3 separate regions of the Homo sapiens genome follow, and regions 1 and 3 are each linked to region 2. The links come from fine-mapping of genetic effects on gene expression. A gene starts in region 2. Each other region holds a variant in brackets. All regions are shown on one strand. Distances are between the middles of the regions. Region 1 overlaps SLC12A7 (solute carrier family 12 member 7). Region 2 holds the start of SLC12A7 (solute carrier family 12 member 7). Region 3 has its middle 18 kb from the start of TERLR1.

Evidence for each region. PIP is the estimated chance that this variant, and not a neighbour inherited with it, causes the effect.
Region 1: its variant is fine-mapped to the expression of SLC12A7 in whole blood (TOPMed, PIP above 0.99).
Region 3: its variant is fine-mapped to the expression of SLC12A7 in whole blood (INTERVAL, PIP 0.94).

The regions. Positions count from the first base shown.
Region 1 is chr5:1,082,491-1,092,245 of GRCh38, forward strand. It overlaps SLC12A7 (solute carrier family 12 member 7), which reads right to left. Exons shown (of 24, transcript NM_006598.3): 4 at 6,492-6,638; 5 at 5,816-5,870; 6 at 4,413-4,543; 7 at 2,742-2,983; 8 at 1,255-1,466. Among named protein-coding and RNA genes, the nearest start is that of MIR4635, 24 kb to the left of the region's middle. The variant C/A (reference allele first, on the strand shown) is at 2,999.
Region 2 is chr5:1,109,806-1,118,655 of GRCh38, forward strand. SLC12A7 (solute carrier family 12 member 7) reads right to left here and starts at 2,258. Exons shown (of 24, transcript NM_006598.3): 1 at 2,063-2,258. The coding sequence starts at 2,186. RefSeq lists an enhancer at 7,611-8,144.
Region 3 is chr5:1,156,200-1,165,954 of GRCh38, forward strand. No RefSeq gene overlaps it. Among named protein-coding and RNA genes, the nearest start is that of TERLR1, 18 kb to the right of the region's middle. The variant T/TG (reference allele first, on the strand shown) is at 4,150.

The sequences.
Region 1 (9,755 bases), 27 kb before region 2:
CCGTCTCGGGTTCTGGGGAAGTCCGGGCTTCCCGTCTCAGGTTCTGGAAAGTCCGGGCTTCCTGTCTCGGGTTCTGGAAAGTCCGGGCTTCCTCTCTAGGGTTCTGGAAAGCCTGGGCTTCCTCTCTAGGGTTCTGGAAAGTCCGGGCTTCCCCGTCTCGGGTTCTGGAAAGCCTGGGCTTCCTCTCTAGGGTTCTGGAAAGTCCGGGCTTCCCATCTCGGGTTCTGGAAAGCCTGGGCTTCCCATCTCAGGTTCTGGAAAGTCCAGGCTTCCCGTCTTGGGTTCTGGAAAGCCTGGGCTTCCCGTCTCAGGTTCTGGAAAGTCCAGGCTTCCCGTCTTGGGTTCTGGAAAGCCTGGGCTTCCCGTCTCGGGTTCTGGAAAGTCCAGGCTTCCCGTCTCGGGTTCTGGAAAGCCTGGGCTTCCCGTCTCGGGTTCTGGAAAGCCTGGGCTTCCCGTCTCGGGTTCTGGAAAGCCTGGGCTTCCTCTCTAGGGTTCTGGAAAGTCCGGGCTTCCCATCTCAGGTTCTGGAAAGCCTGGGCTTCCCGTCTCAGGTTCTGGAAAGTCCAGGCTTCCCGTCTTGGGTTCTGGAAAGCCTGGGCTTCCTCTCTAGGGTTCTGGAAAGTCCGGGCTTCCCCATCTCGGGTTCTGGGAAGTCCAGGCTTCCCGTCTCGGGTTCTGGAAAGTCCGGGCTTCCTCTCTAGGGTTCTGGAAAGCCTGGGCTTCCTCTCTAGGGCTCTGGAAAGCCTGGGCTTCCTGTCTTGGGTTCTGGAAAGCCTGGGCTTCCCGTCTCGGGTTCTGGAAAGTCCGGGCTTCCCGTCTCGGGTTCTGGAGCAGGTCTCGTGTACCCTGCCAGGGGTCCTTTTCCCTCAACCCCCTGGGGCAGGTCCGAGGCAGCCTCTCATCAGAGAAGGATACACAGAGGGGGAAGTTACCGCCCAGCTACCACTCCCTTCTTAACACAGCAAGTTCCCCATACATGCTGCCAGGAGGTCATGAAAATAAATCCATAGCATTAAGACCAGCTTGCTGACCATGACGGAGGCTGTCTCCCTGCCACACCGTGTTTGGCTTCTATGGCTCTGCCAGGGGTGTGTACAGGGACCCCCAGGCTCATCAGCAGCAGCTGGGAAGGGGCTCGGCCAGGCAGGAGGAATTGGGGCCCTGAGAGTGACTCTAAGGCGAGAGCAGCCACCAGGGCCAGCGCCTGCTGCCCCCGCCACCCCCCAGCTCCAGCTGCAGCCCTGTGAGCCTCACCCAGGAAGACACCACTGGCCGCGCCCGGGATGCCCTGGATTTCGGTGACGTTGTTCTGGATGAAGTACTCGTCACAGGCGGCGCTGGGCTGGGAGCCGTTGCAGAAGAGGCCCCAGAGCGCGGAGGTGGCTGAGTTGTTGTGGATGCCGTAGGCCTTGACGCAGGCATCGAAGCTGCGCCGTGACAGCGTGCGGTTCCCCAGGAGGCAGACCCTGGGCGGGACAGGGAGGCACGGCACGTGTGCTGCCACCGAAGTGGCTTTTACTGCCCCACCCAGCTCCCCCAACGGGCACCCATGGTGTCGCCCGCGAGTGGCTCCTGGCACCCTGCACCTCCCAAGACAGGAAGGCCACAGATCACGCCAGGGACCGGGCCCAGGCCAGGCTGCAGCAGGAATGCAAGGGCCAGGGATCACACTGGGGACCGGGGACTGGGGACCAGGGACCGGGGACCAGGCCAGGCTGCAGCAGGAACGCTGTACTGTACAGCCGTCCCCTCATCCATGGTTCGGCCACCCGTGGTCCAAACGTGCTAAATGAAGCGTTCTAGACGTAAACAATTCACACGTTTTCCACCGCGCGGTGCCGAGTAGTGAGGTGGAACCCAGCAACCTCCCCCCGCGCCAGCACAGCCACGCTGCAGCCGCTCCCTCCCCGAGGCCCTCGGCGGCGTCCTGGCCGGGTCAGCTGTCACAATCTCAGTGTCTGAGTTCAAGCCACCCTCGTGCCACGTGCCAACGGCCAAGAGCACAGGAGTGCCGCCCCCGACGTATAAGCCAGGCCTGTACGTGGAAAACAGTCTACACAGGGCCGTAGCGTCAAGCATCGGCAGGGGGTCTCAGGACGGGTCCCCGAGGGGGAGGGCAGCTGTGCTTCCCTAAAACGGGCTTGTGGGGTTGCAGCTGTTCTGCCTCCCTCTGTTTTGAGGCCTCTATGAGGCTGTTCCTTCAGGGGCTCCCTCCACGCAGAGACGGCAAAACCGCGGGAGCCTCAAGGGGCTTGGCTGCTGGCCCTTTCTGGACCTGCTCCCTGCGGGCTCTGGTGGCCACTCCCATGTTCCAGGACCCTGGGCCGCCTCCCAGCTGCTCCTCCAAAAGGACAAGAAAAGAGCCCCTCCAAGCACCTCTGGGAGGGAGAAGACACCCAGGCCCCAGCAGCAGCCAGGGCCACACCCATGACGCTCACTGCACCTGACCGTGCTCAGGGCCACCGGCCACCCCTGAAACCTGCCAGACCCCTCACCAGCCCTCCTGCCACTGAGGAGGGTCTTCATGCTCAGACCCGGCCACGAGGGTACCTCGGCCCACCTCACCGTTGGGTTTCCTGTAATCCCCAGAACGAGCCCACGGGGGTTCCCGCCACGGTCACACCCAGCCCACCCCTTGCGGGGAGCTCGGCGTCAAGGATGATGGACGAGAGGCGGGCAGAGCCCATGGGACCTGGCCCCAGCCCCACACCCACCCACGGCTCAGAGGCCCCGAGACTCACGGGATGTCCGGGGGGTCGAAGGCAGACTTGATGACGCCGGCATAGATGGCCAGGATGGACAGCACGACGCAGGCCAGGAAGACCAGCGCCAGCTTGTTGACATACTTGACGCCCACGAAGACCACCAGGGCCATGAGCACGAGCGTGCACGTGCCGTACACACGCATGTTGTGCAGCATGGCGGCCGCCTCGCCACCTGCAGCCTCCGCCTGGAAGATGGCCGCACCCGGGGAGATGTACGTCTGTGGGAACAAGGC[C/A]GGTCGGGAGGCCGTCCCCGGACACAACTCCCCAGTGCCCGTCCCTCCCGCAAGCCCCCAGCGCCACACAGGGGCCTCCTCCCAACAGGTGCCGGGGCCATCGGGACGCATCCGTGCTGGACGGAGCCCGCGGGGGTCAGCGCACAGGCAAGGGACGGAGCCCGCGGGGGTCAGCGCACAGGCGAGGGACGGAGCCCGCGGGGGTCAGCGCACAGGCGAGGGACGGAGCCCGCGGGGGTCAGCGCACAGGCCATGGACAGCCAGGGGCCTGAACGTTTCCCAGGAACCACCCGGGAGCCTTAGAGTAAAGCAACTTCAGGACCCGGGGCATCCGCATGTCCGCACTCAAAAGAAACACCTTCTGCTAAGAGGAATGTGACTGCTGCCCAGAGAGCTCGGCCCACCCCGGCTGGACGTCCTGGACACACACAGGGTCTGACCACGCCGGCGGGGGGCAACCTCTGTTCTGCCCAGATTCAAGGGAAGGGACGGAGACGTGAGACAGTGCTGCTCAGCTCCCTCAAGACCAGGACAGGACTGGGGTGCAGCAGGCATGGAGGGCATGGCACCCACCCCCACCAAAGGGGATCCTGGGAGTGCGGCAGCCACGGCACCCGGGGCAGGTGGAAAGATGGAGGGACATGGCCAGGGGACTCGGGTTGGGACGGGTGTGGGTGCGACCCCACTGAAAGGTTTCAGAACCTTCTTGGCCATGTGGCTCTCTTCAGGAACCCAGGAGGCCAGGAACCAGGTCTGGCAGCAGAGGGAGGGGCAGAAAGACTGGGGACAGGGGCTCAGGTGAGCGTCTCTGAAGCCCTGCAGGGACAGCGGGTTTCAGAACCTCAGCAGGAAGGACAGCACCCGTCGGCCAGAGAAGGGCGGTTCCCGTCCCCACGAGGACCAAGGAACTCAGGCCACAGCTCTCAGCTGTGCTCAGGTGATGTGGGACATGCTTTGAGCATGCCTGTTTTGAGAAGGTGATGACATCACCTGGTTGTACATTGCTGGGCTCTGGGACCCTCGGCCAAGTGCCCAGATCAGGCAGAGAAGAGGCTGGGATCCTGGCAAAAGGTTCTTCTAAGCCGAGTTCCAGCCCTGCTCCTAAAACAGCTCCGACTGCAGGACTGCACCTACGCGGGGCTCAGATCTACAGTCCAGATGTCTACCCAGCTCATGCCAGGCACGCCTCACGGAGGGCAGCAATGGTGCTCAAGGGGGACACAGGTCGCTGCTGAGTGGACGCTGCCCAGTGGCTTCCGCCATGGCCAGAGCCCAGGAGAGCCCAGGGGCAGCCAGGGCAGTGGGGTCAGGATGGCTCAGTGTGCTGTGTGTGCCACAGAGTGGGTCAGGCAGGGCCCCTTGGCATCCTGCCACAGACTGTGGGGTGGGAACCCTTCCAAAGCAGCACACTTACCAGAAAAATCTCGATGGTCCCCAAAATATACATGGCCCCTGCAAACGTCGTGCCCAGGTAGAAGCAGAGGCCGACAGCGCCTCCAAACTCGGGTCCCAGCGAGCGCGATATCATGTAGTAGGACCCGCCAGCTGCGGAGACAAAGGCGGCAGCCGCGGGTCAGGGGCGCACTTGGACTCGGACCCGAGGTGCGGTCTGCGCTGCCATTCACGGGCAAAGGAGGGCCTGTCTCTGCGAAGGCAGCGTGTAGACCCTCGTCCACCCGCAAAGCAGCACATGGAGACGCTTCCACGGTGAACTCTCCCCTCCCGAGGCTCGGCACACGTTCCACACCAAGAGCACGCGCTCTCATGGACATGAGGACCAGGTGAGATCAGGGATAAGGCTCTCTGGGGAGCAGGAGGCCCCAGCAGGTCCCAGAAAAAGTCCCGCGTACATCAGTGGCAGCCCCAGCCCCCACTTCCACTAAGTTTTGCTTATGAAAAAGGCAAAAGAGAAACTAGGATGTTCAGGAGTCGTCTCGTGTACTGTGAACCACGCACGCTATCACTGGCGGGAAAGCCGGGCGCAACCCCAGGGCTGCCTGGAGAACACAGCTCTCCCTGCTCTGAGCAGTGCGTGTGGCATGTGGAAGGGGTCCTAATGGACGCGGCCATCGTGAAGCAGAGACTGGTCCCTTGGCTGCGGAGGGAGACCCCTGGTGAAGGCCCTCGTGCTCTCCTGAGGCCGGGGAAGTCCGCTGAGCACCAAGCGATGCCCCCGTGGGGATGGGGACCAGCTGCGTGAGGACCTGGTGCTGAGCAAGCCCAGCCGTTAACACGCGCAGCACACATGCACTCAGAAGCAGACGTGGCAGCGTCTCCGTTCACTAGTTATTTCGTATCGTAATTCGTTTATTACTAATTAACAGTATCATCTCAGTTTACTAGTTATTACGTATTGTAATTAACTTATTACTAATTAATATCATCTCGGTTCACTAGTTATTTAGTTATTATGTATTGTAATTAACTTATTACTAATTAACAAGGTCAGGGCAGTGTTTTGTCTTCACCTTCCCTCGTGAGATACAGGTTCCAAGAACTCAGCCTATGGCACACGCTGGGCTACAGGAGCCACTGGAATCGCCCGTGCCTCCCCCTCCCCAGCCCGCTGCCTGGTGGGCACTGCCTACCCTGGCAAGAGACGGTCACCACGCAGCAAAATGGGGAAGAAAACCAAACAGCCGTGACCTCACGGCTCAAACGCCAGAGGAGCCAGTGGAGAACACGCAGAAGGCCCGGCTGAGACCCCCAGGCAGCCCCCGGCCCGGCCTCGCCAAGCGGCCTCCTCGCGGTTGCCGTGCGGCAAAACACAGACTCCTCTAACAGGACTCAGGGCCGCGGCTGGCGGGCACCCCTTACCTGGGACCACACCGTTGGTAGCGATCGCACTCATGGAAATGGCGGTCAGCATTGTCTGCAAAAAGACAGGCAGCCATCTGAGGAGAGTTTTCCAACAGCCTGCCGGCATCGCAACACTCCCAAGTCAGGGTCTATGACCCGGCTCCCGCCGAATGCCAGCCCCCAACTCCAGGGCTCTCCATCTCAATGGAGTGGCTAGGAAACAGGACCTGGAGGCTCCCGGGCACCAGGCATGCGTGTCCTGGTTCCCACCCCTTCCCCTATGACAGCGACCCCTGAAAGTGCCCAAGGTCCTTCCAAACTGGAGGTGATGTCATCAAAACACAGGGTGTCCCTTCCCTTGGAAGCCTCAGCCCCCGGGTGCCGCCCCATGACACCCACCACTGGCTGAGATGCCTGTCCGCAGACACGGGTAAATGAGGTGCCAGCACGCCAGTCAACACGCCAGCACTAACCCCGGACAGTGTGGCATCTCATCCCCGCAGCTGCCCGGCTCTCGTGGAGGAGACGGCGCTGAACGACGTCTACACGGGCGTCTGGGGAGGGCCCTACTGTCCGGCTGCCACCGCCCGAAGGCACAACCACAGCGGCCAGGGGAGACGGCATCTGGGGAGAGCCCTACTGTCCAGCTGCCACCGCCCGAAGGCACAGCCACACCTGGCCGGGGGAGACTCACACATGTGCAGCACATGGCCACGATGAGGAAGGACTCCAGGACACCAGCCACCCCCACGATCCACGTCAGGCGCAGGAAGAGGATGACGCCCAGGATGTTCTGCAGGCACGGCAGGTAGACGCCGATGAAGGTGCCCATGCGCGGAGCCTGCGACAGAGCATAGCGTGTCCCAGGGGCTCGTACCCCACACCCAGAGGGAGCCCCCTCCCCAGGCTGCACTCAGGCCCTGGGCAGGCAAAGCGGCCGTGGGGGCAGGAGGGGGCAGGAGTCCTTCCCAGAACAGATGGAGGTTCAGAGAGAGGCCCAGGACAGGACCCCTGACCATCCCGGAATGAGGGCTTAGGGGAGGGGAGCAGAACCACATGGTTGGCAGAGAACCAAGATGCAGCTGCTCCGCTGTGCCTCCCCGACGGAGGGAAACCTGTTACACTGGAAAAGTTATGGAAAAAACAAGAGGGAGAACGAGAGGGCCCCCGGCTCCGTTCCCTGGATGGCTCAGGGCCTGAGATCTGACACCCTGGGAGAGCCTGAGACTTCAGGAATGGAAGCAGAGCCAGCGGAGGGATGAGACGGCTGCTGCCCATAAAGCTAAAAAAAAAAAAAAAAAAAATCCACAGCTCAGCGTCGGCCCTGGGCAGAAACTGACACATCTTAACCGGGCACGGAGGTCACCACGAGATAACAGCAAAGGTTCAGATATCCACGTGGGGGCCACCCCGCCTGCCCCAGCACGGAGCAGGCAGCCTGCTTCAGACACCTGTGCCAGAGAGGGGGACACACCCTGTGCCCTGAGAAAACCCACATGGGCAAGGGTCAGCAGCACAGCCAGGAGCAGGCCAGCGCCTGCCAGGCAGCTCCCCAGCTCCACTCGGGACGGGCCAGGCTGGGGTAGAAGTTTCAGCTCCATCCCCACTGCCTGCTCAGCCCCACTCCCGCCATGAGCAGAGGCACGTGGCTCAGACCTGGAGGACGGCTGGTGCCAGCACAAGGTGACGTTTTAACAGGAAAACGTCTCAAGGTCAATACGGAAAAGGGGGAAGGTTTTATTTGAAGACACTTCCTGTGAACAGTGGCCACAATGTGGATCAGAACAGGCCCCGTGCGGGGCTTCGATCCTGGGGTTCACACAGCCCAGGCCTGGGGAGGATGGGAACAGGGGACCAGGTGAGGGGCAGCTCCCAGGGAGAGCACGCTGAACACCACATCACAAAAGCAAACAGGGTGGCTTCTGGGGTCACCGTGCCGGAACGCCTCCCACAGACTGGCCAAGGCTGGGGCCAGGGCAGGGCTCTAGGGCTCCACCAACTTTAGGACCCTGGGAAAAATAATGTAAGAGCAGCTCGGAGCGTGGGAAGCCCTGGATCTGAGAGCCTGGGGGATTCACTTGGTTCCCTGAGCCCTAGGTGGGAAGCAACAGGGGAGCGACTTGCTTCTGACGGGGGCCCTGGAGAGGAGAGGGTGACGGGGCTGGGGGCCGCTGCTGGGCCCTCCAAATCTGGGTATGCTTTGTTCTTGGTGCAAACGAGAGAAGCGGTGGCGGATGGTGGAGAACCGGCTTTGGGACATTCTCATTGGATAAAACTGAGAGCCCAGGGCAGAGGTGACAGCAAGGCTCCAGGGACAATTGTTGCTGTGACTTCCCAGCGAGGCTTCAGCTAACGCAGGAGCCGACAGGCAGAGCTCCAGGCAGAGACGCGGTCCACACAGGGGCCCCTGCCCTCCAGGCTCAGCCTCAAATCCCGCAGCCCCGTGACAGGCGAGTCAGAAGCTGGTTCTCGGCCAAAGGCGGGGGATCCTGACTCCTCACGGAAGGGCATGGCCGGCCTTGGCCTCTTGGTTCGCGCCTAAAGGCAACTTTTAAGGCTCAACCTGACCCAATTTCAGGCGCGGGAGGCTGGAGATGCCTGGGCCCTTGAAAAGGCTCCTCAATGGGAGCAGGTCTGCTGGGGATGAGCCTCTGAGCCTGGCAAAGAGGACCAGGGGCGGCCCCTGCCCTTCCACCCCAGGGGCCGAGCCACGGTCCCCTAAGGGAGCCGAAGGAGTCACTGCCAACTGAAACCCGCCACCGTCAAACAACAGGCCTGCTGGGGTCACGGGCCCTGGTCCCTCCACGACTGAAACGCAGGCAGCATCAGCCTGGGGTACCTGCATATTGTCCCTGAGGGACAGAGGCCTGAGAGCCACCAGCCTGGGGGTAGGGTTGCCAGGGAGGGCCAGGGAGAGCCTTCCAGGTGGGAACCTCCTGGGCCCTGGCCCACAGTGTGCCATGAACAAACACACCTGCCTGGACGTTTCAGTCATGTCTCAGTACCAAGTAGGGTGAGAGAAGCTGGGGTGTGCTCTCTATGGGCACCTCATGGCAGGCTGGGCTCCATCAGGCAGAGGGGTTGGAGCTGGATGTCCAGGCCAGTGGTGCCTGAGCCCAGCCGAGCTGGAGCTAAAGCCTGTTCCCGGAGCACTCGGACCAGGCCCGTGGGAAGACACCTGCTCCCTGGAGAAAGCCAACATCTCCCTAGGACACAAACTCCAGCACACAGGCGGACAGACAGGGAAGGCCTGTGGCTCCTGAGTTTTGGTGCCAGAGTACCAGCCTGAGCCCATGAGGCCTCAAGGTAGTGCCCAGCATGCGTGAAACCCCAGAAAGGTGCTGAGTGCTGAGCCCGGCAATACCCAGTTCCACAGCGTCCACGTGCGGAAAGGTACTGAGTGCTGAGCCCGGCACACCACCACCCAATTCCGCGGCGTCCACGTGCGGCACGGCAATACCCAGTTCCGCAGCGTCCACGTGCAGAAAGGTGCTGAGTGCTGAGCCCGGCAATGCCCAGTTCCACACCATCCACGTGCAGAAAGGTGCTGAGTGCTGAGCCTGGCAACACCCAATTCCGCAGCGTCCACGTGCAGCAGTGATGGTCCCACCCCAAGGGCTGGCCGAGCTACAGACAGGGGGGGCGGCCACAAGCTCCCCGAGCCGGGAAGGACCCAGCAGGGGAACCAGAAAGAGGTCCAGAGATGCAGCTTCTGAAGAGGCCACTACCCTGTCCTGGGACAACAGCCAGGGCTGAGGGCCCTCATCAGGCCAGGCCCCACCCCAAGGTGGTCTCACGGTCACGTCCCTCGTCTCCGGTTACTTCAACCCCAGATTGAGGCTTCTCAAAAACAAAACCAAATGTCTTCAAGTATTTTGGAAATGCAGTATTAATTCCGCTGTGTTTACAGTAAAAGGAAGGAAAGAGACATCTTGAGCGGCCTGACTTCCCGACTGCT
Region 2 (8,850 bases):
CACCCAGGCGCCAGCCCAGAAGCTCCAGTACCTCCACAGACCGTTCAGGGGAACGGCAATGGAGTCAGGAAGAGCTTGGGTGCTGGTAACTCTGTGGCCGGACAGTTTTGGACCTGGCCTGTGACCTTGTGGTGTGGACCCCACACAGAAGGCCTTTGGGAGGGGCTCCGGCTTCTGCAGGACCCCCGCCCCCAACCACCACCAAAAAGCAAAGCCTGTGCCTCCTTCCCCAGGCTCCGTGCCCATCACGGGACTCCTCGCCGCACCTCTGTGGGCTGAAGATCAGGATGTGATCAAGTGGATTCCGAAGGGCAGCTGCGTGCCCGTTACAGCCTGGCAGTGGCTGGGCACCGGGCCCTTTCTGTGGAAGTAGGAAGCGGGTCCAGCACAAAAGCGCCAGGTGCAAGTTCTCTGCCAGTTCGGAGAAATCTCCCAAGTTCAGCTCACACCACAGGGCCACCCTCAAAAGTGTCCAGAAGCCCACACCTGGCCCATGCCCTCCCGTTCTCAATTTCATGAAGGCCAGGGAGCCTCCTGACACGCCCGTAGCAGGACCTGAGTGCGCGGGCAGCGACATGGGCAGCGCTCAGCCAGGGCCACTTCCTGCTGGGCAGACACAGGCCCAGGGCACTGCTCAACAGCCTTGAGAGTAGAAGAGACAAGAAAACGAACAAGCACAAAATTCTCTCTGGCTTAAAAGCAAATGACACTTACAGTCTAAAGACAAAAGTGAACCTGATCAGCCTTGAGAAGGGGCCGGCCAGACAAGAAGAGGCTCCTTCTGAGTGCGTTCCGGGGGCGTTGCTACAAAGCTCACACAGAAAGACCACGCCAGGGCCCACACTCCTTGGTGCTTCCTGCCTCCACGGTGGTGACTGGAGAGAAGGGGCTTGGACTCACGGACCCTGCTTAGTTAGCACTTCACCTGGTGTTGAGCCTGGCGCCCCGCCTGACCACTTCCAAGATCTGGGCTGGCCTCTGTGCAGAGGAAGCTGAGACCACTCTTCGCCCGCCACGGGGACCCTGATGACGCACCCCAGGCCACCAGGCCACTGCCTTCACGGTGGGTCCCCACCCGTGTCTCCGGGTTCCTAAACTGCCTGGAGGGGATGTCTGGCCTTTCCTGCCCGGGATGGTGGGTTAGGAAGGATCTGGGGTCTGGCACCGGACTTGTCCCTGGACAGACCTCACCTTCCTTCCACTGCCAGGGAGCAGGGAGGCTGCCACCCACTGCATGAGACCCGGGCACATGCGGGCACTGCCAGCACGCGGGGTGGGGGCTGGACTGAGTCCGGACACCTTCTCAGAGACTCCGGATGGAAGGGCCTAAGAGCCTCCGGTTTCTAGAGGGGGCTGAGATCCGGGGAGTAACTGGGATTTGGAGCCAGGATGGAGGGAACAGGGCTGGGGGATTCTCTCCCCAGCCCCGTCCCCACCCCCTAGAGAAAGTGAAAGTGCTAGAAACCTCCAGATTCCCGGAACGGGGGACGGGAACACGGAGGACGCGGCCTGAGCAAGGCCCCGGTGGCTGCCCCCTCCCCAGCCAGGGCGCAGTCCTTCCTGTTCCGCCTCTGGGGGGTGGGCGGCTCCTCCAGGGTCAGGCGGGGGCAGGACGGGCCGGCCCGGGCTAGTGTTACCGGACGGCCGCGGCGCAGGGGAAGGGAGAGCGCGGGGGACGCAGGACGCCCCGGCTCCCGAACCGCCCGGGTCTCCACCGCCACCCCTGTCCCACTAGGGACCACCCAGGGGCCCGGGCTCCCTCCGGAGGCGCGCTCCAGCCCCTCCCCGTTTCCATGGCTACCAGCAGCGGCGTCCACACCTCTGCCCCCGGTCCCACCCGAGCTGACCGTACCGGGAGCCCTGGCAGGGCCCCTCGCCCCCTAGCGCTGCCACTAACGTGGGGTGGGGGCCCTCGTGGGGGACCGAGAACAGGCGGTGGGGGCGCGGGAAGGGGCGCCTCCTGTACCCCCGGCCCCGCCGCCCGCCTCCGCTCCCGGATGCCGGGCCCAGACCCGCGCTCGGGGCGCTCGGCCTTTGTCCGGCCAGGTGCGGCCGCGCTCACCCGGGCTGGGGCGCTCGGGCTCGGGGCCCTCGGGGGTGCCCGGAGCCTCCGTCCGCTCGGCAGTCTCGTCCCCGCCGCCGTCGGCGTGAGCCTCCACGGGCACCACGGTGAAGTTGGTGGGCATGGCCGCCTGCAGCCGACAGTCCCCGTCCCGGCCCGGCCCGCGCTGCGCCGCTCCCGCCGACGCCACGGGACTTGGAGGCAGGGGCGGGGTCCGACCGAGCCGCCCCGCCCCGCCCGGGCCACGTGACTTCACCTGCTTGCCCCGCGGCCCCACGAAAAGTTGGCCCGCGGCGACTTCCTGCAGGGACCCCAACCCAGGCTGCGTCTGTCTGACCGCCGCGACCCGGGACGCGGGGCTTTCGCTGCCTGCGCTCCCGACCATCGCAGAGCCCGCGAATCCCCGCTCAGTCTCCTGCACCCCCTCCTGCTCCAGCCCCCTGCCCCTCCTGCTGGAACTCCCCGCCCTCCCCGCCCTCCCCGGCCCCCTCCCCGCCTCCCCTCTTGTCCCCTTCCCCGACCCCCCACTCCTGCTCCAGCCCCCTGCCCCTCCTGCACGCCCTTCTGCTGGAACCCCTCACCCCTCCTGCACCCCCCCACCCTTCCTGCACCCCCTCCTGCTGGGCCCCCCTGCCCCTATGAACCCCCTCCTGCTGGAACCCCTGCCCTTTCTGCACCCCCTCCTGCTGGGCCCCTCCTCCTTCTGCGCCCCCTCCCGCACCCCCTCCTGTTTGCCCCCCATTTCCTGCTCCAGCCCCCTACCCCTCCTTCTTCCCCCTCCTGTTCCCCCCTGCCATCCTCCAGCACCCACCTCCCACACAGTCCGCCCACCCACTCCAGGCTGTCAACACCCGCTCAGACCCTGGGCTCCTAGCCTGGCTCCTGGCTAGCCCAACCTGGCTGCAAAGGCAACTCCAGTGGAAGGAGCCTTGGATAGCCTGGGGGTGGGGTACTCCGGAGCTTGGTCCAGCTCCAGTTTAGGGACCTAACCCAGTAGAGGGAGTCCCCCCCCCCACCCATGACAAATACCACCCACGAAGACCCCAGTCTCCTCCACACCTGCCCCAGGAGTGCCCCGCGGCCCCTGCCCTAGAACCCTCCCTTCCCTCCTTGGGAAATGTTCCAGAAGCTCACAGGGTGATGCAGGGAAGGTGGAGTTCCAGAACCCACCAGGCAGACACCAGGATACCACCGGCCAGCACCTGGCACATTTCTCAACAAATGACTCATGAAAAACGGAACAATCAGATGTCCGTCAATGGGGAATTGGGCTAAAATGCTATGGCACACAGGTGCAATGAGTCAGCCTTTATTCCTAATCACCCACAACTGCTGTACGACAACAAAGCAGAAACACAGGTGGTGTGGGCAAACACGGCCACAGCCTCTTGTCACGTGGAAAATGGGTATGGCCTGGCCATGTTTTAGCCGCTTGCCTGTCTAATCCTAAAAGGCAGCTGGAGGGGAGTGATGGCCTCCGGGCTGTGGGATCACCGGGCTCTGTGGGTTCAAGGAACGCAAGCCCAACCTCTCCAGCCATTTCCAGTAAAGCCAGTCATGCCCTGGGGTGGCCTAGGGTTCTACCCCTTTGCCCCATGGACTCTTCTGGGCAGAAGCTGTAGGCCTGGGACCCTCCTGGAACGTCGCCCATCCAGCACCAGCCCTTGCAGAGGTGGGGGTTCCTCTGGCCTGGGTGTCTGGAGCTGTGCCTGCTCCACACTCTCACCCCACCTCCCACCAAAGGGAGCTCAGGGCTGTGGATGGTGCTAGGTCAGCTGCCTCCCTGGGTCAGTGGGTTGGAAGGTAGGAAACCATCACCTCCCCAGAAGATAAAATAGTTCCCAGGCATCCTTATGAGGAGGGCTGGCTTTGCTAAAAAGATCCAGGGGGTGGGAACAGAAGTGCCCAATGGGGTCAATTATAGGGTTCACACTTAGGGTGCTGGGTAAACCCTCTCCTCAGTCACCCCAGCAGGGGCTTCTGTACATTCAACCCTGGTTGCCACCCAGCGCTATTCCCGAGGGTTGGACAGAGCTCAGGGTGGGCACGAGGCCTTCCCAAGTGATGCCAGCAGGAGCAACAGATGTGCAGGGCTCCCGTCGCACATCCAAGCTCTGCTTCACACCCCAGGACCCCAGGGCCGGCTGCCCGCCATGTGCTGGCTGTGGACCTTCAGAGGAGCTGGTTTGGAGGGTCTGTGGCCAGGGCCAGCTCCCGGACTCAGGACTCATCAGCTTCATTTTACAGAGGAGGAAACTGAGGCCCAGGAGTTTAGGGTCCTGTGGCAGCTCCGAGGGTGGTCTTCTCTGTGATTACAAAATCTTGACTAGGACCAGGGGCCATGGCTGAAGCACCTGGGTGGGTGCCCAGCCCTGCCAGGCAGAAGGCAGGTGGCTTCTCTTGTTTAAATCTTAGATCTTACTTGTGGGAGACCTCGGGTGGGGGGTGAGGTCTGCTGCCTTTTGCATTCTAATCAGGTGAGTCACGACAGGGATCAGCACCCTGTAAGCACCTGCGGGTCAAGACAGAGACCCTTGCCGGAGCCCAGAAGCCGCTGCAGGCCCCTCCCATCCCATCAGTAGCCCATCCCTAGGGGTCTGGTGGCCCCTCCCTTCGCTCTGTGGGTTTCCGTGTCCACGTATATCCTCCCACACGGCAGCCTGGGGTTAAATGTGCGTTGTGTGACTTTCAGTGCTCTCTTCCTACCCACCTCCATCCCTCTGTCCTTTTCTGTACCCGGCACCTGTTGTAGGAAGTGGCCCTCGGACACGTGGAGGTACCCGAGGCCTGGGTTGGAGCTGCATCTTTCGGTGCAGGCCTCTGCGTCTCCTGGAAGTGGGCACCTGGAGCCAGGGGACTGCTGGGATCCGGGTCCAGTCCCCTGGCAAGGCCGGGGGCTCGCAGAGGGAGCCACGCACTGTCTGGTGGTAGCTCCTCCGTCCGCAGTCGTTGGTGCTTGATGTCTGAATCGACAGATTCATGGAGCAAAATGGTGATTTTCCAGTGCGTGGTGGCTTCGTCATGAATTCACTGGAGGGAGAGGCTCATCTTGTCCGTCTGGCCATCTGGATAATGGTGCCCACAGGAAAGGCAGGGCAAGGGTGCCTCTCCCTCATTTGTCAGTTTCCACAACGGTGAATTGGTTCCCGACAATCTCCCAAGTATATTTGTACATCGCTGATGAAACACATTGGTGGGTCTCAGTCGATCACCATTAGTGCCCTTTCCAAGCATCGGTGTCCAGCTTTGCCCAGGGGGCCTCTTCAAATGCAATCTCGCATCCTTATGATGTGAGCCTGGTCATCTGCGATGGCCTCTTGGCCGTGTGCAGGGCACAGCCAGGGGAACCCTGGGATTTAGTGCGAAAGTGTAGCCGATGGTGGTTACATTCTGTGTGTAGATTCTCGAAACAGTCCCTGCTGCCTGCCACCCTGGGGTGGAGTTTCTAATGGATTAGGACGGACACCCAATGCCAGCTTCCAAGCCAGGAGGCCGCTCGTGCCCACGGCTTGGAATCAGGGCTGTGGCCTGGGAGGGCTCTCACCAGACGCAGGCTGCCTCCAGGTATCTGTGTGCCTCTGCCCACGGAGCTTCTCCCCAGGTCCGCGGGTCCCCCCAGTCCACTTCTGCTTTCCTGTTAGGGTGGGGGGCTCATCTCCTGGTGCGCCATCTGCATCCTTCTGGGCTGGGAACCTGCTGTCGGGTATCAGGCAGGGCGCACCTCCAGGGCTGAAGGATGCAGGTGGGGCTGGCAGGCAGAGTGTCCGTGGAGAGCTCCGTGTCCAGGGAAGGGGACACCTGGAGGAGGCCGGCCCTGGAGGCCCCACACTCCTTCTCACCAGAAAGCCACCCGCCTTCTGCCTGGCAGGGCCGGGCACCCACCCAGGTTCTTGCCTGTTGGCCCAGCACCCATGGTGAGTGGGGGAGAGAGCGAATAGGGCAGAGCAGAAGAGAGAGGGGAGGAAGGAGAATCGGGGGAAGGGGGAGGGAAAGGAAAGAGGTGGGAAGGGAGGAGAGGGAAGGGAGGCCCCAGTTACCCAAGGCTAAAGTGATTTTTAAAAAACAAACCTTTTTTTTTTTAAGCGTGGTGAGCCTCTCCTGGCAGGGTGGGGTATGTGGACATCAGTGGAGGAAGCAGAGTCTCCGGCCACCTGTGGGACCCACACTCTCCCTGCCCAGGAGTCCCACCAGGGCCGAGAATTCTGCCCATGGCCAGGGTGGCCCTAAAGCCCCACATCCGCCACCACCTGTGGGGGCTCGAAGGGAGCTGTGGTAGGCAGGGATGACAGAAGACCCCAGCCACAGCCCCAGGCCCATGGCTGCATCTCCCCTGAAGAAGCAGCCCTGTCCCAAGGGTTCTGCAAACAATGCCAGGCTCTTCCCAGGCAGGCACCGCAAGCTGCCCCCCGCCCCGATCCCTGGCTTGCCCAGGGCGGGGCCTCTGGGCCTGGTGGATGGTGGGCCTGGCCTGGCGCTGGGGAGCCTGTCTGCACAGTGGCCAGGTACGTGGGGTTCTGAGCCTCCCCCGGGTCCTGTGCCTGCTGGGCAGGGGTACATCCCATGGAGCTGAATCTGGGAATAGAAGGGGCCTCCCCTCCCACAGAGCTCGTCTCAGACCATCTGTGTCTGAGACTGTAAGTGACGCCAACAGAAGGTCAAGCTTGAGCGACAAAGCTCTCAGTCCTGTAATTCACGGACACTGAGTCTTCGCTCAAGTTCCCTCTGGAAGATTCCGTGGATGAGTCCGACACACTCTTCCCCTCACTCAGGAGGCTCCAGGATTTTTAGACCACGTGTGTGGCTTTCCTTCTCTCAAAGTGTAACTCACATAATGTTACTCAGAATCTCACACGGACGCCCGTGAGTTGCAGACACAGGGAAGGTTCGCATCTCCTCTGAAGTCCAAGCTGCCCAGAAGCCCACCCACCCCCCGCCAGCTCTCGTTCCTGCTCCACAGGTGACTTCTTTCCCGTGAAGCTTGGGCAAATGTTTGCTGTCGGCTCAGGGGGAAAGGCCATGCCAGGGTCCAGATGGGCTCAAAACCTCCCAACCTGGCAGACACGCAGCCCTTCAGAAATGGAAGCAGAGCCCAGGACACGATGTGGCCAATCCTCTCTCAGACGTCATAAAGAGCTGGGTTTGGAAGACGAGGCCAACCCTCATGGATGCCGCCCCCGACCCCAGCAACACCATGAGATCAGGGATTTGCTGGCTCTGTCTCAGAGCCGCGGAGGGTCCTGCTCAAACCCCAGAGCCGTGGGGATGGGCTGGGGGGCTGGTGGGGAGCGTACTGCGAGGGGCCACTGAGCAGGCTGGGGTGAGCTGGGCCTGGCCTGCGGGGGTGGGGGTGCAGCCTTCGCTGGGGAGGCAGCCAGGGAAGGGGTTCCTACCAGCCCGAGATGGAGCAACGAAGCAACTAGTGAAGCCAAGTTTGCAAAATTATCACCGTTGGTGGAAGGGTTCCGACCTGACTCCATCTTGGTTCTGACCTCCAAGCTGTCCTTGTTCCTTCCTGGGCGTAGGCTGAACTAACTTTGGGAGGAACTTAGTTTATAGTTAAAATAAACCTCCTTCTTGCCTGAGGGCTAGACTGCCTTTGTAGGATTAACAAATTAGCCACAAGATTAAAGAAATTGTGGTTTAGGAGTCATGCAGCTGGAGGCTACAAGATTCTGACCCTCCCTAAACTGCTCCTAAAATCCATGCTTGAGATGTTTTGCGGATCCTTGTTGCGCTAGATGGATCAGCTGGCACCACTCAGACCAATAGACTGGCTCATCTGATCTTGTGACCCCCACCAGGAACAGACTCCGCACAAAAGGACAGCTTCAATTCCCTATGAGTTCATCTCTGACCTGACCAATCAGCACTCCTGGCTCACTGGCTTCCTCACCCACTAAGCTGTCCTTAAAAACTGATCCCTGCCGGGCGCGGTAGCTCACGCCTGTAGTCCCAGCACTTTAGAAGGCTGAGGTGGGTGGATCACGAGGTCAGGAGATCGAGACCATCCTGGCTAACACGGTGAAACCCCGTCTCTACTAAAAATACACACAAAAACATTAGCCGGTCATGGTGGCAGGTGCCTGAAGTCCCAGCTACTCGGGAGGCTGAGGCAGGAGAATGGCGTGAACCCGGGAGGCGGAGCTTGCAGTGAGCTGAGAGCACGCCACTGCACTCCAGCCTGGGGGATAGAGTGAGACTCTGTCTCAAAAAAAGAAAAAAAGAACTGATCCCAAATGTGTGGGGAGACTGATTTCAGTAATAATAAAACTCCGGTCTCCCACACAGCCAGCTCTGCGTGAATCCCTCTTTCCCTATTGCGATTCCCCTGATTTGAGTGACAGTAAAACTCCGGTCTCCTGCACAGCCAGCTCTGCGTGAGTCATTCTTTCTCCCCTGTAATTCCCCTGTCTTGATCCATCAGCTCTGTCTGGGCAGCAGGCAAGGTGAACCCATTGGGCGGTTACATGAGGGGGAGTCCATGGGCCTCAGCCCCTTGAACAGAGAGATAAGAAGATCCCACACTGGGAAACGTTTCAGTGCAATCTGAGAACATCGTGGGCAGGCCTGGCAGCCATCCAGACCCGGCAGAAGAGTCTTCCTGGCAGCAGCGCCAGGGATTCTCCAAAAACAGGTGTGACCCAGACTCGCGCCCTCGCCAGACACAGATGAGCTGTTGGCCAAATGCGAAGGCCGCCAAAGCCGTCCTTGGGCGTGAAAGGTCTTGGGAAGTTTCCCCTTTCTAGACCGGGGGATGCCTCTTGCCAGGAAATTCGAATGAGTCCAGG
Region 3 (9,755 bases), 47 kb after region 2:
AGACCTCGCTCTGCGCCGCCTGGAACCGACGACGACCAACCCTGGCAGCAACGCTGCAGCCCGCGGTCTCTGGCGACGCCCACCGAGGGCCGGGACCAGGGGGCCGGTGAGGGTGGAGGTCTCGCTGGCCTTTGGGTCCGTGGGGAGGGGCGCCCTGATCTGGGGCCTCCACCTCCCCCATCCCCAGACTCCAGCCCTTGGCCAAGCAGGGTTCAGCCGTGCCTGCGTGCGAGGCAGAGGCCTCCTCCTGGGACTTCCACCTGGGGAGAAAGGCCTCCGGGGCAGCCAGGGTGGAAGGCGGAGGCCAGCCTGGCTGCGGAGGCGCTGGGAGCCGCGGACCCTAGAAGTCTTGGGAGACCCCGCCTGCTCTTCAGGGGTTCCTGCAACCACCGCAGCTGCACAAATTCTGCAACTGGCTCTTTCCTCCCCTCTAATGATGCTGTTGCCACCACCTTGCGTGGAAGTATTGAGCACTTTACAATATGTATTCACAGATTCAATAAATATTTATGAATGCTAACCTGTGCCGGGCCCTGCAGGTGACAGAAGGGAACCCCTGCCTCCGTGAAGTGTAGGTTCTAGAGGGAGGCAAGGGTAAGAGCTCTGAGGTGTGGGGAGGGCCTCAGGTGACATCTAGACAGTGACTTACAGGGAGCAAGTGGTCAGCTGTGCTGCCTCCAGTCATACTCTGCCCTCGTCGTCCACGGTGGCTGCTGCTGGTCCAGCCATCACATCTGAATCCCAGCAGTAGAGTGAGGAAACGGGAAAGGTAGCTAGCCACTCCTTCGCAGAGCACAGCCTAGGAAGCCTAGGAGTGCACATAGCACCTTCGCTTATCCTGTTAGCCAGAACTTAGTCCTGTGGCCACACCTTCGTGTGCAGAAGGCTGAGAAACACGCCTCACCCATGTCTGTGGTGCTATGGATAAGAAATCACCAGAGGCTGGGTCTCAAGGGCACAGCTAACACCAGTGGAAAGACCAGGGAGGATGAGAACTCCTTTCTTCAGCACATCCTCTCACCATCGCCCCACCTCCACTCATGTGGCACCGGCAGGCATGCCTGCTCACACCTGCCCACACTGGCTCACACCTGCTGACATCTGTCCACAGCTGTTCCAGCCCACTCACACCTACTCACCCCTGTGCCACCTGCCCACACCTGTTCCCATCTGCTCACACCTGCCCACACTGGCTCATACCTGCACACATATGTCCACACCTGTTCCAGCCTGCTCACATCTACTCACACCTGTTCCCACCTGCCCACACTGGCTCACACCTGCTCACATCTGTCCACACCTGTTCCAGCCTGCTCACACCTACTCACCCCTGTGCCACCTGCCCACGCTGGCTCACACCTGCACACATCTGTCCACACCTGTTCCAGCCTGCTCACATCTACTCACACCTGTTCCCACCTGCCCACACCTGTTCCCATCTGCTCACACCTGCCCACACTGGCTCACACCTTCACACATCTGTCCACACCTGTTCCAGCCTGCCCACACCTACTCACTCCTGTGCCACCTGCCCACACCTGCTCACACCTGTTCTCATCTGCTCACACCTGCCCACACTGGCTCACACCTGCACACATCTGTCCACACCTGTTCCAGCCTGCTCACATCTACTCACACCTGTTCCCACCTGCCCACACCTGCCCACACTGGCTCACACCTGCTGACATCTGTCCACACCTCTTCCCACCTGCTCAACCTTCTCACACCTGTTCCCACCTCCCCACACCTTTTTCCAAGATGAACTTTTGAATCATTTTTGGACGTTCCCCCCAAATACATTTCTGATTTGGTTGAAAAGTCACTAAATGTATAAATAAATTTGCTGAGAACTGACATCTTTATGGTGTCAAATATTTTCACCCAGGTCCTGCACATTTTTTCCATTAATTTATGTGTGTGTATTCACATTCTTGTCACTACTGGACTGACATGTAAAAACAGGATGAAACACCTTTGGCTGTTGTGTGTTTCTTTTGTAATCTTCTACCTTGCAGAACTCTAAATCCTATTATTCAAATACATTTCCAGTTCAACCTCTCGCATTTTGCAAGGAATTTTTGTTCTGTTTTGTTTTGTTTTGGAGACTGAGTCTTGCTCAGTCACCCAGGCTGGAGTGCAGTGGTGCGATTTTGGCTCACTGCAACCTCCAACTCCCAGGTTCAAGCAATTCTGCTGCCTCAGCCTCCCGAGTAGCTGAGATTACAGGTGCGAACCACGCCCGGCTAATTTTTGTATTTTAGTAGAGATGGGGTTTTGCCATGGTGGCCAGGCTTGTCTCGAACTCCTGACCTCAAGTGATCTGCCCACCTCGGCCTCCCAAAGTGCTGGGGTTACAGGCGTGAGCCACCGCACCCGGCGTGCAAGGAATTTTTTTAACCTGTAAGTAATGATATCGTTGTCCTTTTTTGTCATTTTTACCTCTTCTGTTTTCTTTTCACCCCTTTGTTCTTGTTTTGGAATTTCCTAGAAATTCCAGGGCGATATCCAGGGCTGTGTTGCTGGTGGAACTGAGTGTGTGGCCTGGACCCAAGTGAGGGTGGTTCTGGTGTCTCCGGGAAGCACTGTGCCGCCTGGGGAGTTGAAGTGCTGCCTCTTGCTCTACCCCATGAGGCCGACCCTGGACGCCTCCCCTGAGACCCGGAGGCGGCTTGGGACGGACTTGAGGAGGAAGGAGGTCCCACAACTCAGATCCTCTCACCTCCCGGCCTTCCGCCTCCCCTGTTCAGGCTCCTCAAGTGAGAGCTCCTCCGGACTCCTGCCCCAAAGGCAGCCTGTCCCCAGCTTTCATTTCCAAATGCCCCAATATCTGCCATTCAGCCACACCCTCTGCCCACCCTGTCCCTGGGTTTGAGGCTGCCAGAAATTTGGGAGGCCCTGGAGCCCCTTAGAAGCCTCTAGCCATGCTGAGTCAGCCTGAACGATGGGGCTCACTGCGGCCACTGCCCACCTTGGCCTCCCGTGGACAGTGGCTGCATGTGTCCCGGGAGGACTGTGGTGAATGCCTCCCGAAGACAGGACTGGAGACACAGGAGGCCCAACGGGCTCTGATCGTCTGACGCCTCCGCAGGAGAGAAAGGTTGTAAGAATCCAGGTTCTTTTATGAAATGCTAAAGACAGAAAAATGCCGCCTGGCTCCCGTAAGTTCTCCACGTTGAGCAGTGGATGGGAAGAAGGACAAGGGCTGTGGACGCCGAGTGGCTGAGGACAGGGGAGAGGTGCACCGGCCACGCGCGTCCCTCAGTGGGGAGATGGCTGCAGACATCAGGAGGCTGAGCACAGGCTAACCGCTGTTCCTGCTTTATCCTCCTCTCCAGGTCTTAAATTCTGCTTCTATCACTTTCTTGTTTCAAGACGGTTTTTCCTCCCATCTTGATCTGAGTACTCCTTCATGCTTTTTGTTTATCTTGCTAAATGGAGAAAACAGTGAAGCTTATACAGTTTCCCCTGAAAACAGCCTTGGCCTCTTGGTGTCATTGTTTTCCACTGTTTGTAATGACAACTTTAATCTCTTTGACTAACAACCTACTTATAGCCCCTAATTTTTTCAGTTGTCAGTTTGCAAAATTGAGGTCTGATCTGCAAACAGTAAGACTCGCCACTTTTCCTGCAAGTTCTGTGGGGGACTGACTGCAAGGGCCAGGAGGGTGGTCTGGCCCCATGCAGGCACCTCCGCCTTCATTCTGCAGCCAGGTCAGAGGGACTCAGGGGTCACCTCCAGGGGTCACCCGCACCTGGGCTCCCATGACTTCACTCCCACCTGCTGTCAGATCCCTGGGGTCTCACCACAGACCTGGAGGCCCTCCTGGGGGAGCCTCAACAAGGTAGGTGACCAGGGAACGGGAGAGCCTTTGGGAGTGAGGAGTGATGGAAGTGCAGTGGGGAGCAGAGACAGAGACAGAGAAAGAGAGGGAGAGAGAGACACAGAGAGGGAGGGAGAGAGACAGGGAGAGTGATAGAGACAGAGAAAGATGGAGACAGAGAGAGGGAGGGACAGAGAGAGGGAGGGAGAAAAACAGACAGAGAGAAGACACAGGATGAGTGATAGAGACAGAAAGACAGAGACAGAGAGAGGGAGGGAGAGACAGAGAGAGACAGGAAGGGAGAGAGAGAGAGAGAGACAGAGATGGG[T/TG]GGAGGCAAGGGGCAGGAGAGAGGATGTTAACCCTTTCTCCCCACCATTTACTGAACTGTACGTTGGACGATGGGACGCCTCCTCCCCCTACCCCGTGACGGGGTCCTGGAGGGGCAGACTTTGGAGAGGAGCTGCTGAAGGGTGGTGGGAGAGCAGGCAGGGTGCCACCACAGCGCCACAGCGACACTGCTGCTGGGGGCTGGGTTCCATTCCCTCTGCCTCGAGATCATGGGGGGTACTTGGATTATTGTTCAGCAAACACCTGCTCTCTTCCCCCTCCACCCCTCCGAGGACACAAGCATGCTCTGCTCTGGATCAACAGTGGATCAATAATGGATTTCAAGCAGGCTGGGCTTGGCCTCTGCTGTCACTGTAAGAAACACACCCCAGGGGCCAGGCGCGATGGCTCACGCCTGTAATCCCAGCACTTTGGGAGGCCGAGGCGGGCGGATCACAAGGTCAGGAGATCGAGACCATCCTGGCTAAAACAGTGAAACCCCGCCTCTACCAAAAATACAAAAAATTAGCCGGGCGTGGTGGCGGGCACCTGTAGTCCCAGCTACTCAGGAGGCTGAGCCAGGAGAATGGCGTGAACCCAGGAGGCAGAGCTTGCAGTGAGCCGAGATTGCGCCACTGCACTCCAGCCTGGGTGACAGAGCGAGACTCCGTCTCAAAAAAAAAAGAAGAAAAGAAAAGAAACACATCCCAGGTAAGGCTGCCGGCCCCTGGAGGGTGAGAGACCTGGAGAGAGGTCTCAGCCCAGAGCACGGCCCAGAAGGGCCGATAAGCCTAGACCAGCTGGCCCTGACAGTGAGCAGGGATAAGTAACTGCAGCTCGACTTGTTACGCAGTGTTACTGACCCAACAGCAGACTGATGCACTTGTCCTGCACCCCCTTGCCGAGGTAAATCCTCCCAGGGCCTCAGCCTCCTCACATCCGAAGTTGGGAGAACAATGGTGCCTCCGCCCCAGGACGGGCTCAAGGTTGAGATGACTCAGCGCAGGGGAATTCTCTGCACACCCTGTCCTCTGTGAATGCTGCTCTTGTTCCTGACTTCCAGGACCAGGCGAAGGTGGCCCAGCTCCCTCCCCGCAGCCTGTTCCATGGCCCACGGTGCTGGGCGTGAGACTGCTCCCTGGTTCTGTGGGCTGGGCCCTCCCTCTGGGCAGGTTCTGTGGTGGGAGAGACAACAGGCTCGCTTTGTAACTCCAGCTGCCAGGTGCACACCCACTGTGTCCTCCAGCCCAGGCGCTTCCTGAAACTCCCCCTTGGTGCTCTGCAGCTTGTTTGCAAAGGTGCTACTTCGCCTGCTGAAATAAAGTGTCCCATTCAGCTCTCTACTCCCGCGTGGTCTGTTGGTCCACGATTTGCCCTTTGTGAGCAGCTAGCTCAGTGGCGTTTCCTGGAGACAAAGGCCCAGGGTTGAGGGTGCCGTGGAGACAGCGCTACCTAAGGAAAGGCGCAGCTACAGGGCACAGCCCCTTGCTGGGGGCGGCCGCCGCAGGGCCGGGCATCTGCCGACCCTCAGCCAGGTCTGGGATCACCCTCACCAGGGCCAGGCCAGTGGGGGACCTGCGGCAGACCTATAGGAGTAGGAGCTGCTCCAGGGCCCCAGCCGTTGCCCGTCCACGGAGGTCACGTTCAGGCTAAGCTGGGCAGCCCGGCCTTGTGTTGCTGGCCCCCAGCCGAGGGAGGAGCTACGGGAGGGGTTGGGGTGAGGCTGTGGCTGGGATGTGCAGTGCCCAGCGACGGAGGGTGCTGGACATGTGCCCGGCTACTGGACAGCAGCCAGGGAGCAAGTCACAACAGAAGCCGAGGGGGAGGATCCTGCATCCCCACTGCTCCAGAAGGTGCATCCAGCTGGGGCGCCCTCACCGTGCGGACACAGGGGCTCCCAGCTTTCTGTGCACGCAAGGCCACAGCAGGAGCTTCCCGGGGTCTGCAGATGACCCAAAGCAGAGTTCATTTTCTTCCAGTACCCTCTCTGCTTCTAGAACCTTCCTCCAGCCCCATTCCAGCGCTCACTCTGGCCGAGACCCCTGCCCACTCACTGGTTGGTGGCCGGCCAGCCGCCCACCCCACGTCAGCAAAGCCAGCTGCCCGTGGCCCGAGGATGTGTCCTCGCCATGTTCCTACGGCCAGTCCTCCTGAGGCCACCGTGACCCCGAGGGGTCCCGTGACGGGACAGGCAGCTGACCCAGCACTGGCCACGCGGCCACCCACTGGAACAGGATGAGAGGAAGCTCCCGGGCAGCAGAAACCAAGCCACCCTCCCCTAGTCACCCCTGCATTTGTCATGTGCCTCCTGCATCTGAGGATGCCCTTCGAGGCCCTGGGGGTGGGGGGTGGGTGTGTCCTCTCTCAGACTAAGGAATCCGTGTCTAAGGTGCGGCTGCCCTTGGGATTTTGCAGGGTGGGTGACGTGCAAAGGGTGGGTGATGTGCACAGGGTTGGGCCTAGGGTAGAATTTGGGCTCTAGGGGACTCTGAACAGAGCGGAAACGTAACATCCAGACGTTCAGGGGCCTGGCTTTTGGGTGCAGCCTCCACCTGGCAGCAGGTTCTGTTCAGGGACAGGGGCTGAGAGCTGGCGCCTGCCCCAGCCTAGTGAGGATGCCAACGAAGGCAACTTCTGCTTTTCTTGAGGAAGAAACTTGGCTTTTGACTGGCCGGATTCAATGATTTTTCTTCCCTCCGAAACATTCCCTCCTGTCACTAGACTCTTTTCTTTTTGATATCTGTTTCTTTCTTTCTTTAACAATGAGCTCAGCACAAGGGGTGTGTTTGCCACCTGTCAGGAGGCAGCTAAGGGCTTATTGTAAGAACTTCTTTTCTTCCCATGGCAGCACTGGGGGAGAGGCCATGGCTGTCCCCATTTTATAGAGGAGCAAACCAAGGGCCACAGCCGTCGGTCACCTTGCTAGGAAGAAGAGGAGGGGAATTTAGGCCCAGCAAGCCGGTGAGCGGCTGGAGCTGTCAGCTTGGTGCTGGGCTGGGCGCCAGGAAGGCCTTGAGTGCTGGAGGGGCTCTCGGTGGCCTCAGAGTGTCTCTATAACCTCCCATTCCCACTCCTGTGCTCTGCAGTAAGCTCTGGGGCTCCCCACTGGGAGGGTGGCTGTGCTCCTGCCCCTTGGGGACTTCCTGGGGGCAGAGGTCTGAGCCATCTCCAGGGCCGGCCCCTGCAGCGCTCAGTTTAGGTGCGATACAAGGGTCTGGCTAGCCAGGTGTGGGGGCCGGTCACGGGCTGAGGGTTGAGGGAACCGTAACATTTCTGGACGCGTTTTTCTGTGGAGCAGGCAAGGTGGTCTGGTCAGGGTGGTGGTCTCCCCTGGGCCGTGGCAGGGGTATGGGGACACTGAACCACAGTCGTGGGGTCCACGGCCCAGTTCCAGTAGCCAATCAGGGGCACATGGTCCTGGTTCTTACCTTGGCTCATTGAGCAGCTGTGCCCAGTGCTGTGGGGTCAGGGGTGACATCCCAGATGGGTCTCCTGGATTTGGGCTGAAAGATCAGTCTTGGGGTACCCCCAGGGTCAGGGTGCTCAGAAACCCCCATGGTGGGCCTGGCCTGCCTTCCTGGCCTGCAGCCCTGCCTGATGCCAAAAGGTCACTGGGCCAGTCCTTGCCCACGGGCCCCTCCCCACGGTGAGACCTGCCCCACTTGAAACTTGCAAACATGGAAACTTGGCGATCTGACCCATGGCCTGGCCCAGCACTGCGACCTGATCCTGCGGCCCTGTGGGCCCCGGGCTCCCCATCGAGGTTGGGTTTCTAGGCTGCCTCAGCCTGTTCCAGCGAGAGGCGCTCGGGGTACGCTGGCCCAAGCCCCGCTGAGGTGCCTCCCAAGGAGGAGCCTGTGACCCTCAAGTGCAGGGGGTTGCAGATGCCCGTGAGCTCTGTCTCCCTCGTGAGTGGCCTGGGCACTGCTGCACGCGGGTGGTGGGGGCTGTGGCCCACCAAGGATTCAGCCTGGTAAGCGGCAGTGGGTGGGAAGGATGGTGTGGGCTCACTTGAGGGTCATGGGAGTCCGAAAGACTGGGGGACAGACTCAGGCCCGGGGAAGTCACATCCACAGGGACATCAGGTGCCCCCCTTGGGCCACCAGGACCAGACACATAGCACCCTGGACTCTCATCTCACAGTGTGGATCTGTGCACACACAAACATAGACACAGATGCACACAGATAAACACACACAGAGATATACACAGAAATACACACAGACATGCAGATACACAGAGACACAGATGGAGACACACAAATATGGAGACACACACAGATACACACAGAAATAGACACAGATACACACAGACATACACAGACACACAGATATGGAGACACACACACCGACACACACACAGAAATACCGACACACACAGCCAGCTGCTCCACCTTTGTGACCCCACCACCTCCTCCAGGGGCCCACCCTGATTGACTGAGAAGCTTTTGCTCCTAATTTGCTGAAATGAAGCCACCAGCGCTGGGGGGAGTGTGGCCCCGTGTCCCTTGAGCTCCCCGTGTCCCTTGCGCTCCCCGTGCTGGCCTCAGAGACCACATGTTCTAGCTGCATGAACAGCCAGCACACGGATAAATCCGTCTCCAGAGGGTACTTTTCGTGCAGAGCCAGTCGGCTGGGCCCTTTTTCTCCCTGCAGGACACCCTGTGTCTCTGTGGGAGGAGGGCAGTGATGCGGAGTGGGGAGTCCTCCTCAATCAGATAACATTGTGTCTCCCAGACGAGAGGCCCATGAAGGTCAGGGAGGGCACAGGGCTCTCGGAGGGAGTGTCTGGGGCCAATGTCACAACCTCTGCTTCACGCCCTTTCCAGACACAAGCGCAGACACTGAGCAAGGAGGAAGGAAGCTGAGACTCTGCGGGCCCGGGGACTGGCAGGAGCTCTTGTCCATGAGTTGAAGCTGTAGCACCAGGGTGGGGACAAGCCGGGCCCATGGTTTCCAGGGCCTCTGTCCTCCGTCCACCTGAGAGTTGTGCCTTGAGACAGGAGGCACTGGGCAGCCAGCACAGCCGCACTTTGAACAGCCATGCAGAAGCCTCCACCCAGGCAGCCCCTCCTCCCAGGCTGGCCGCACCATCCTTCTGATGAAGAAAAACCAGGTTCAGCCCTCTCTTATCGGGACACAAAATAAGGGCCCTGGCGCACCAGAGCAGGGTCATCCCCCTAGGGTGCAAGGAGGTGTTTTGGCCTCTAAGGACACAAAGAGCTGAGTGGAAAGACCAGCCCCTTCTAAGGGGGCGCGTAGAGGTGGATGTAAAGGGCCCCGCCCAGAGCTGGAAAAATGCTGGCCCCAGGCCACATCCTGGAGACTGAGGCTGCGCCTACTGGGAGACCAGGAGCCTTTACCTTTGCAAGGAGCTCCTGGGTGGTCCCAGTGAGTAACGCCCTGAGAGGTTACACCCATATCTCTCAGGAGTCAGGCTCCTGCCTCTGTGTGGAGCATAGTTCACAGAGACTGGTGCATGGGACACAGGCCACTCAGGGACAGTAGGGTAGATCCAGCTCCAGGGCCTGAGGAACAAATCACCTACTCATTCATTCACTCATTCTTTCATTCACTCATGAACCCATCCATCCAGTAATCCACCCAC